Linked DNA regions of Homo sapiens: all the other regions are linked to region 1. The links come from fine-mapping of genetic effects on gene expression. A gene starts in region 1. Each other region holds a variant in brackets. All regions are shown on one strand. Distances are between the middles of the regions. Region 1 holds the start of CABIN1 (calcineurin binding protein 1). Region 2 overlaps CABIN1 (calcineurin binding protein 1). Region 3 has its middle 9.8 kb from the start of GSTT2B. Region 4 overlaps LOC124905090 (a long non-coding RNA gene).

What was found. PIP is the estimated chance that this variant, and not a neighbour inherited with it, causes the effect.
Region 2: its variant is fine-mapped to the expression of CABIN1 in whole blood (TOPMed, PIP above 0.99).
Region 3: its variant is fine-mapped to the expression of CABIN1 in thyroid (GTEx, PIP 0.97).
Region 4: its variant is fine-mapped to the expression of CABIN1 in fibroblasts (GTEx, PIP above 0.99).

The regions. Positions count from the first base shown.
Region 1 is chr22:24,009,927-24,012,608 of GRCh38, forward strand. It overlaps CABIN1 (calcineurin binding protein 1), which reads left to right and starts at 1,378. Exons shown (of 37, transcript NM_012295.4): 1 at 1,378-1,441.
Region 2 is chr22:24,139,358-24,142,039 of GRCh38, forward strand. The region is part of intron 29 of CABIN1 (calcineurin binding protein 1); the gene reads left to right. Among named protein-coding and RNA genes, the nearest start is that of SUSD2, 41 kb to the right of the region's middle. The variant G/A (reference allele first, on the strand shown) is at 1,446.
Region 3 is chr22:23,950,034-23,952,715 of GRCh38, forward strand. No RefSeq gene overlaps it. Among named protein-coding and RNA genes, the nearest start is that of GSTT2B, 9.8 kb to the right of the region's middle. RefSeq lists enhancers at 1,625-2,316, 2,317-2,682. The variant C/G (reference allele first, on the strand shown) is at 1,574.
Region 4 is chr22:24,213,742-24,216,423 of GRCh38, forward strand. It overlaps LOC124905090 (a long non-coding RNA gene), which reads left to right. Exons shown (of 2, transcript XR_007068023.1): 2 at 1,485-2,682. Among named protein-coding and RNA genes, the nearest start is that of GGT5, 30 kb to the right of the region's middle. RefSeq lists an enhancer at 1-414. The variant G/A (reference allele first, on the strand shown) is at 1,145.

The DNA.
Region 1 (2,682 bases):
TGGCCCTGAGCTTTGCCTCACGGTAACACTGTGCTGCATGACACTCCAGCATGATCTGCATGTTTCTCACCTCCGGACCTTCCCCACACAACTTTCTTGCTGCTTGGACCACCCTTCCCACCTATTTTCAACTGTTTCTCTCCAGCGCATCTTTCATGATAAGGCTTGAGTGGAAGCTGTATCCGAGGCTGAAGGTTATCCATGCAGCTTTGAAACCATCTGTTTATGCTTCTGTTTACCCCCCAAATACTGTTTACCCCAATACTCAAAGTCAAGGTTGGTGACTCAACAATTTTCAGAACTTCTAGCTTATCAGTATAGCTTTATTGTACTGAACTGAGTTTTTCACCATGCTGTTACTGTCTTTGAGGTTAAAAAGCCCCCAACATTCACTCCTATTTGAATCATCTGTGCAAGACTCAAGCAGCTATGAATTCAACCACAGTGTAAAGTTCTTCCCTACAATGCTTTATTGTTATTCTAGCTCCCAAGAGAGTACCATCTTTCAGCCCAAGACCCTTGACAGAACCCCTTCAACTCTGTCGCCTTTTTTCATCTCTGGAATTCTGACACCACCCATGACCCCTCTTCTTGTTCATTTACTAGGTTTTGTTCCTTTTTTTCCTTTTGTTTCAATATCCTATTGTATCTGTTCCTTTTGGGCTTCACATCCTTTTTGGAAAGAGAGGCACAGGTAATATAATGAATGAGGATGCTCCTCCTCCCTGGTTCCCTCTAAGTCAAGTTTCTCCAACGCGCTGGTCTGCTTGGCTTTGAATGCGGCTCAACACAAATTCATAAACTTTCTTACAACATTTTGAGATTTTTTGGTGATTTTTATTTTTATTATTTATTTATTTATTAACTTATCAGCTATCCTTAGTGTTAGTGTATTTTATGTGTGGCCCAAAACAATTCTTCCAACGTGGCCCAGGGAAACCAAAAGATTGGACACCCCGCTCTAAGTGTTCCCCAAGTTTCCACTGTTTTCAGAGCACATGTCCCAGGTAATAACACACAGCCCATCATTTAGTGACTGCTCAGGGTGCAAGCTGTGGAGAAGAGAGTCCGACTACGAGCTGGTGCTCTAAGCCTCCAGCACGCTAGGACTGACGACGGGGATCCGGAAACAACAAGCTCCACTCCCGCAACACACACACACACACACACACACACACACACACACACACACACACGCACACGCACACGCGCACGCGCGCACACACGCGCACACACGCGCGCACGCGCGCGCGCGCCGCCCAAGGGTAGCCGTCTGCAGGGCCCCAGCTAAGCAGCCCGCGGAGAGCGAGCGGCGCGTGCGCCCCCGCTGATTGGCTGGCACAACCGGCACCGGAGCCAATGGGAGCACGCCTTGTTGTCAGGCGCGCAGCCGGACGGCGCGGTGGTCGGGACAGACTGGCCGTTGCTGTGGAGACGCCTGGTGAGTTCCTGGAAGGCTGGTTTGAAGGCGGTGCCGGGGTGGGGGTGAGGCTCAGCAGAGCCCGGGGCACAGGCCGGAGGGGCTGCAGGCGCGAGGCTGGGTTACGTGAGGAAGCTGGGGGTTTCGCGGGCAGCTTTAGAGCCCCAGTCAGGGAAACCGAGGCCGGGCTTCCTGGCTGCCTCGCGAGCCTCTTCATGGCTCTCGCCGCCGCCCTGAGGTGCCTAGAATGGGTTCCGGCCTCCGGGGAGGTTCCCAGTAACCGCAGGAGCCACCATTGATTTGGCGTCTGCTGGGTGCAAAGCCCAGCGCGCTAACCCTTTACTCGCGACCTTTCGCTTCACCTTCACAGCAGCCCTGCGAGGTGAGTGTTGTTATTGGTGCCATTTACAGGGGTGGAAACTGAGGCCGCGGGTAGGTGAAATGATTTGCTCCAAGTCACCCAGTGGGTGAGCGCGACTCCAGACTGAAAATTTTGACCGTTCTGCTTCACTGCCTCCCCGCAAGAGGCGGGCCCTGGCCAGATGGAACTCACCTGGCATTCCCAAGGTATCTGCACAAGTGGCTTTGGGAGTCACTTAACTCTTCAGGACCTGGGTTATTACAGGTTATAAGTGTGGGACCGTCGGATTCCATGTGGCTAAGATTCTTTCTATGTGATTATTGTGGTTAGAAATAGAATATGCTTAGAACAGTCTCGTTCAGCGGTCGGCAAACTTTTGTTGTAAATATATCAGTGTTTACATTGTTATATTGTAAGTATAATGAGTATAATAGTATTCATAATAGTAGTTTAGGCTTGGGGGGTCCATACTCTGTCTACTTAACTGTAGCGATGTAGTGTGGATACAGCCAAAGACAATACATAACAGACTAGCTGCGTCGCAATAAAATTTTAATTATAGGGACCGAAGTTTTAATTTTATATATTGTTAATATAATTTTCACGTGTCATGATTTTTTTTCCCAAATATGAAAAAATGTAAAAACCATTCTTTGCTCGTGGGCTGTACAAAAAGGGTGGGCTGGTTAGCTTGCAGAACCCTCATCTAGTACAAAGCCTCATACATGAGGGGAAACAGACTGAGAGACTGACATCTATGTCAAGTCAGTCACACAGCCAGGGCACTGCCACCACTGAGCTTAAGACATAGGCTTCCCACCTTCCAGGCCAGGAAACATCCCCAGTTATCACTCTGGATCAGGGTGCTGAGGTCTGAAGGTGTGCTACTCTTTATCGTGTT
Region 2 (2,682 bases), 130 kb after region 1:
TGAGGTCAGAAGTTCGAGACCAGCCTGGCGAAACCCCATCTCTACTAAAAATACAAAAATTAGCCGGGCGTGGTGGTGCATGCCTGTAGTCCCAGCTAGTCAGGAGGCTGAGGCAGAAGAATCCCTTCAACTCAGGAGGCGGAGGTTGTAGTGAGCTGAGATTGCACCACTGCGCTCCAGCCTGGGCGACAGAGCAAGACTCCGTGTCAAAAAAAAAAAAAAAGTGTGCGTGTGTGCTTTTTAGCGACTTTGCTTTTTCCATGACACCAAGTCTTGGAGAAGTTTCCATGTGAGAAGGTCAGGTCATTTTGCTCTCTGCAGCTGCTGCCCAGTCTCCTTGGGTGGACACATGTATGGGCCCAGTGTCTGCTCTCACAGTCTCCTGGTTTGTGCGTCTTTGTGCTGTTGCTGTGTTCCTAAGTCCCCTGGCCTGGCCCAGAGGAGATGCCCACATGAATATTTGTGGATTAATTTCATTCATCCCTTTCCCCTCAGCAGTTGGTCTCCAAGCTCATTCTCCTGGATCAGCCAGTGCTGGATGTTGTAGGAGTCAGGCAAAGCCTTGGCCCTGGCCACAGGATGCTCAAGGCTGACAGTAGAGCACTGCCTGCATGTCTCCATGCGGGGCCTTCATAACGTGCTACAGGGCATGTAGGAGGGACAGGGAGCTGGGCTCTCCCATGCAGGGTGGGGTGCTGCTCAGCCAGAAAGGGGGCAGGAGAGGAAGGCTAGGATTAGAGGCACCCTCGGGGGAACTCCTTAGGCTGGGCTGCTGACAGAACCTTCCTGGGGAGTTTAAGGGACCAGAGAATGGGATGGGTGCTAAGGATCGAGTGAGTGGGACCTTGGGTTCCTATGTCAGCTTTGCTGACAGGAACTCCTTGCAAATGGGAACTGCCCCATGACTGGCTGGCCCCCACAGCAGCACAGATGGACGTGTAGCAGGGCTCAGCACTGTGGTTGAACATGAGGAGGAGTGAAGATGGCATGTCTTGGGTCCCACTGTTCCACACACCGTCCTCCCTGAGCAGAGGGGACCAGGAAAGCAGGCACCAAGCTAGGTGGTAGGTGCTGCTGGGGTGGCTACCCACACCATGGAGGCTGAGGGTTTGTGTCTGGGTGCCCAGAAGCTTCTGGGGCTCCCCCCGCAGGCATACACACCTCTGGCAGGCAAGCCTGCATGGGCCAGAGCCAGGCTGCTTTGTCCAGGGTGAACTTCTCTCCCTGTCTTGTAGTTGATTCAGAAACGTTCCCATAGTAACCAAACCAGACAGAGATGGTTCTCCTTCCTTCCCCAAAATGTTTGCTTATTTTAGCAGGCAGGGTTTTTTCTTGTTTCAACCCAGTTTCCAGCCTCTGAAAGAAGCAAAGGGAGCTCAGGGCCAGGCTGGTACTGCCTCCTGCTTCTGAGGCCGTGTGGGGCAGGCAGCAATGGTGGCCTGAGT[G/A]TGAGTGGAAGGGAGGTGCCGGCCTACTGTGGCCTCCCTGAGTGTGGTGTCTCCCCTAAAGCTGCTCCTGCCGCTGCTCAGGTGGGCAGCCCCCAGGTCCCAAGATCACTGAGAAGAGCACAGATTTTGGGCACAGGCAGGCACAGCTCCCAGCCACTCTACCCCTTACTCAGCTTGGGCTACCCGTAAGCAGAGTGGTCCCGACAGGTGGATGAAAGCTATCATCACACACTTGGCATGCCACACAAATCACCCTTAGGTCTGGAGATGGGCCTGCATGGAGGCCTTGGGGCTTATCTGTGGATCCTAGAGGCCAGTGCTAGGATGTGACTGAAGCACGGAGCAGGAGGAGCTCCAACTCACACCTGGCTGGGGCCTCCATAAGCTCAAGGCCCTGCCCTGGCTTGAATGGAGCAGCCTGAGATGTGGATGGTGGCCTTAGCCGTCACACCCACCACACAGGTCTCTTTCTGTGAGGCCTGGCCCAGTCTTTGGTGCCTGTGGATGGTGGTCAAACTTCCTGTTCTTGGTCACTGCTGCATAGCACTCCACTGTCTGGTTGTCCTGGTGGTCTACCTCCCCTCTTCCTAGCGGATAGGTGGCTTTTGGTTTTCCACTATTAGAAAAAGAATGCTGCTATCTCTGATCTCCTTTCTCACCTGTGCCGGGGTCTCCAGGACAAATGCCTGGAAGTTGGAGGCCAGGACACAGGTCCCCACAGCCAAGCGCTTCCACACCTTGCCAGGTGTTTTGGCAGAGCCAGGCCAGATGCCCTCCCACCAGCCCTTGCCCCACCCCCTCCCAGGACTCAGAACCACAGATGACTTTCATTTTGGCCTATCTGTGGAGTGTGCCAAAAAACCCCAGGTGGTTTCAGTGTGTGTCTCCCATGTGAGTGGGGAGGCTGAGCCTCTTCCCACACCGGTAGCCAGTCCCCTTTGTCTACCCAGGGTCTGCCATGTTCTCTCCTACTTGGCGGCTGCCACAGGTGGTTCTGTTTGTCCTGACTGTGTTGCTTAAACTGATGGGAGGTACAGTCATCATGAGCTGTCTTTGTTTCTTGAAAACATTTATGCCCTGTGCTGTCCCAGCCCTGGAGCCTGAGTGCTCACTGAAGGCCTTGATGTGGTCTGGTAGGGAGGAAGGGCCTCCCCACCCAATTTCTGGTACCCCATACCTGCCAGAGTTGGGGGGAAGGAGAGAAAGTCTCCAAAGCCCAGGGTACTGTCCTTCTCAG
Region 3 (2,682 bases), 60 kb before region 1:
GATATTGGCCGCGGATCCCTGCCTGTCCCCGCTGCTTTGCAGTTGGGCCAAGAATGCAGACTAACACGAAGAATCAGACTCTCCGGTGTGGAAACTATTACATAATTATCTATGTTATTATTTTTACTTTTTGGAGACAGCATCTAACTCTGTCACTCAGGCTGGAGTGCAGTGGCACAATCATGGCTCACTGCAGCCTCGACCTTCCAGGCTTAAGCGATCCTCCCGCCTCAGCCCCTCAAGTAGCTGGGACTACAGGTGCCCACCGACATGCCTGGCCAATTTATTATTATTATTATTATTGAGAGGAGGTCTTGCTGTGTTTCCGAGGCTGGCCTAGAACTCCTGGGCTCAAGTGATCCTCTTGCCTTGGCCTCCCAAAGTGTTGGGATTACAAGCATGAGCCGCCATGCCCCACTGGTTGTCTATTTTAATAGAGGCTTGATCTTTGCTTGTGAATACAAAACATTCTTCAAAATACAGGTTTAGAGAGGGCACAGCAGGCACAGAACGAGGGTAGGGAAATGGAGTGGGGCAAGAATATCTTCACCCCATGTGCTTGGAAAAAACAATGAAACTGCCTCGTTGTTTCCTAAGTAAAATAGTCCCTGTCTACCCCTGCCTGTGTCTCTTCCACTTTTGTATTATTTGTTTGTTTATTTATTTATTTATTTATTTATTTATTTATTTATTTATTTATTACAGTGTCTCAATCTGCAGCCCAGGCTAGAGGGCAGTGGCATGATCCCGGCTCACTGCAGCCTTGACCTCTCAGGATCAAGTGATCCTCCCAACTTACTCCTCCTAAGTAGAATAGTTGGGACTACAGGCACGTCCCCGTGCCCAGCTACTTTTTTCTTTGGTGTGTGTAGACGCATGATTTTGCCATGTAGACCAGGCTGACCTTGAACTCCTGAGCTCAAGTGATCCTCCTGCCTCCTCCTTCTAAAGTGTTGAGATCACAGACATGCACCACCATGTCTGGCCCTGGGTCTCTTCCACTTTTATGTATTTCTTGGCATTCTTCTGCCTTTTCCTTTTCCTGCATCTGACTTGCTCTATCCCATGGGGCTTCTCACCCAGCTGAAGGGGCTACTCCTAGAGGCTAGAGGCTGGAGGGCCCTGTGGCAGGGCAGTGGGGGAGGCCAGCACCCTCACCCTGAGCTCCAGCGTTTGCTGGTCTGGCTGGCATACAGAGATGCAGCTGGAGCACAATTCAGTGGAGGAGGCAGGGCTATAACTAAGCAGTAGGGCAGAGAGCAGAGCCAGAGCCCCCTGGGCAGGCCAGAGGGAGGACCCTGCTCAGCTGACTCTTCCCAACTGCTGCCCTTGGTACAACCAGCTTGAGTCACCTGCTACAGAACAGGGGCTGGACACAGAAGCAGTCTGTGGAGGGAGAATGGGCAGGGGTGTGTATGTCCATTCAGTAGAAGGGCAAAGAGGCCCACATGTAGGCCTATGATCAGACTGGAGCCTGGCTTGACTGAGGTCCTCTGATCCAAACACCAGGCACCTAATGCGGCCTCTAGCACTGGCCTAGAGTGCTAAAGTGAGTCAGACCTGGGAACCCCCA[C/G]TGGGGAGGGAGCCTTGAGAGTTTGGCATAAGAAAGCAAGAAGAGCTGAGCCACCGGAGGCTAAGTAGCTGAATGGGGCAGGGATTCCCAGCAAGAATGAGGTTGGTCTGAGGGTTGGGAACATGTTTGGCTGGGACTCTGGGGTATTGACAGGTCACCCAGCCTGGCCAGTAGGGCCTAAGTCCCCAGCTGGGATAGGAAGCTGAATCAGAGGGGGCAAGCCTAGAGCCCAGGGAGGAGGCTGGAGGGGTCTGACCTATGGATGGAACTGGCTGGGGGTGGGGTGTGAATTACAGCTCCAGGGAATTGTCCTTGAGCCATGCTTCAAGGAGCTGGACACAGGAAAGATGGCCCTCTGATGGGGTCAAGGTCTGTGACCCAGTGACTAGCAGAGAGGCTTCCTCTTCCCTGATGCCTCCCAGATAGGGGCCTCAGAAAGCTGCTGCTGGGATTTTGGGGTGGGGGTGGGCAGAGACCTCAGAGAACTCTGGGTTATCCCCACTCACCTCTCTGATCTTTCCTGCAGGCCAGCAGCACAGCGATGCCTTTGCCCAGGTGAACCCCCTGAGGAAGGTGCCGGGCCTTGAAGGATGGGGACTTCACCTTGGCTGAGAGGTAACCGGTCCGTGGGCTGCTGCCGGGCCTTGTGGGGCCAGTCGGCTGTCTGTTCACTGTTGATGGCTTGGATCATGGACTGTGGGCCCTGCACCAGCCCCAGGGTGAAGAATGGGTGGAGGCAGGCAGAGGTGCCCAGTGTTGACAAGGGTTATAGAAGTCCCCTCCTGCATTGTACAAGTGAGGAAACTGAGGCTGGAGGAGGGGAGGGACTTGCACAAGGCCACAGGGCCCAGTCTGCTTCCGGGCCTCCTCACCGCCAGCCTTCCCCTCCGAAAAAAGGAGAGTGCTAAGTTTCGAGGAGCGGCTGTACCAGGCATCTTAGTGCTACCATTTTGCCCACAAATCCTGTGGGGCAAGTGCTGTTTCCCTGGAGAGTCGAGGGACCACTCAGCGAGCTTCAGTGGCTATTTGCTAAACATCCACCAGGGCCAGACCCCATTTAAGCCCTGGGGCTTGAGCAGTGAACGTGTCTGCGTCCTTCTCCTCATGGA
Region 4 (2,682 bases), 200 kb after region 1:
TTTTAGTAGAGATGGGGTTTCACCATGCTGGCCAGGCTGGTCTTGAACTCCTGACCTCGTGATCCGCCTGCCTTGGCCTCCCAAAGTGCTGGGGTTACAGGCATGAGCCACAGCGCCTGGCCTGTTTGTTTTTGAGACAGAGTCTCGCTCTGTCACCCAGGCTGCAGTGCAGTGGCACGATCTCAGCTCACTGCAACCTCTGCCTCCCAGGTTCAAGCAATTATCCTCCCTCAGCCTCCCAATCAGCTGCGATCACAGGTGCCCGCCACCACACCTGGCTAATTTTTTTGTATTTTTAGTAGAGACGGGGTTTCACCATGTTAGCCAGGCTGGTCTTGAACTTCTGACCTCAAGTAATCCACCTGCCTTGGCCTCCCAAAGTGCTGGGATTGCAGGCATGAGCCACCGCACCTGGCCTATTTATTTTGATTCTTATTTTTTATGTAATATTTAAGCAAATGAATTTTCCTCCGAGCCCTGCATTAGCTGTATCCTGAAGGGTCAGATCTGTATTGATTACAGTGTTAGTTGAAGATGTCGCCCTTTTGGTATTGATTTCCTCTGTGTAACAAGATGTTTCAAAAGCCAGCTGTAAGAGTCTCTGGCTGGGCTGGGAATGCACACTGGCTGGCACTGCTGGTGGTGCAGAATGGATGTAGGGGCAGGGCCTGGGCAAGTCTCCCAGGGTGGGATGAGCAGGGAGGGAGAGGAATGGGCTTCCTCCAGGGCCTCAGGAACCAAGGAAGTCTCTGCACTACCTCCAGGCAGGGTCAGATGTGCATTTTCCAAAGCTTATTGCATTAGGAGTGGGGAGTAGACTGTGGTGGTGCCAGCAGCAAAAAGATGGAAAAGAGAGAAGGAGGTGGAGTCAGGGCTGAACCACACAGCTGGAGGGAAGAGGGGGGTTCTACGAGTAGCGCAGGAGGGAGGCGAGGCAGGCACCGCAGAGCTTCCAGCTGCCTCAGGGCCGACTTCCATTTGGCACTTTGAGTCCAAGGTGCCTGTGCACCTTGTCCAGATGCTCTGGAGGTGGTTGCTCGGGTATGTGGGTCTGAGACTCCAAACAGCTCGGCCAAAGCCGACATGGAGATCCATCAGTTCACAAGTAGTGAATGAGCCTTCTCAGGTGGGTGGCAGTCCCAGG[G/A]TGGCCAAGGGTCCAGGGAGTGCACCCTCACTCTGCAGGTGAGTCAGAATCAGGCACCACAGAGCCAGGGTTGCACCCCTGCTGGGGGGAACAGGAGCCCCTTTTCCTCTCCCCGACACACAGGGACAAAGTTATCATGCTCTTTGGGTGCCACTGGGAGGCACTGATGGGAGAGACTGGCCAGGCCTTCCCAAGCAAGCTCCAGGCAGCCTCCCAGCACCCCGGCCCAGGCGCAGGTGTGGTCTGGGAGCACAGAGCCAGGTTCCCACCGTGGGGCACCTGAGGTTTGTGCCTAGCAGCCTTCTCCTCCTTTGGTTCCCTTTTCCTTTTTGGTCCACAGGGTTTGGGACAGGTGGCTGCTACCAACAGCTCTCAAGGTGGCCCCACAGACCTGAGCCAACCACTTCTCCTCAGCCCTCCCCTGCCCATGAAGACTGCTCAGAGGGGCCCCATTGAGAGCTGGATCTGGGACTTTGTTTAAACTGCAAGGAGAGAAGCTCTGTCACCCTGCAGGGCGTGAAGTTCAGCTGAAGCCATTGAGATCATGGCCTGGGAGCCTATCTAGCAGGAGGCTACCACACGGAGGGCCCTGACGGTGTGAGTTCGGCCTCTGGATCCCACCACACTGAAGCACTCCAGAGACTCCCTTCTCTCTAAACCCACCAGTTCTGCTCCCTGGACCCCTGACCCAGCCGTGCTGCTTTCAAAGATCTGTCTTCCACTGCCTCCCAAAGCCAGATCGCAGGAGAAGCTGGTGGTCTCGCATCTGCCTGAATTCTGACAGCGGCCCACGAGAGTCGGTGATGATGGCAGGTCTGCCCAAGTGGTGGGCCGGCTTGGCCCCCTCATCTCAAAGTGAGCCATGTTTTGCTCCCAGACCTTCCTCCTAGTCTGCCAGACCACCTCTTCTAGCCATGCAGTCAAGCCCAGATTAGGAATTAGCCCCATCCAGCCCCTCTCCCACATACAACCTCCAAATATATCCACATCCCAATCCCTAGAACCCAAGATTAGACCTTATATGGCAAAAGTGACTTTGAAGATGTGATTCAATTTTTTGAGATGGGGAGATTATCCTGGACCATCCAGGTGGACCCACTATGCCCCCAAAATTCACGTGTTGAAAGCTAATCACCAATGTGATAGCGTTAGCAGGTGGGGCCTTTGGGATGTGGTTAGGTCATGAGGGTAGAGCCCTCATGAATGGGATTAGTGCCCTATAAAAGAGACCCCAGAAGCCAGGCATAGTGGGCTGCACCTACAGTCCCAGCTACTGAGGAGGCTGAGGCAGGAAGATCTCTTGGGTACAGGAGTGAGCTATGATCACGCCATTGTACTCCAGCCTTGGTGACAGAGTGAGACCCTGTCTCTAAAGTAATTAAATAAAAGAGACCCCAGAGAGCTAGCTAGCTTCTTCCACTATGTCAGTTAGAAGGTGCCATGTATGAGGACATGGGCCCTCACAGGACATCAAATCTGCCAGTACCTTGATCTTGGACTTCCCAGCCTCCAGAGCTGTGAGCAATAAATTTCTGGAA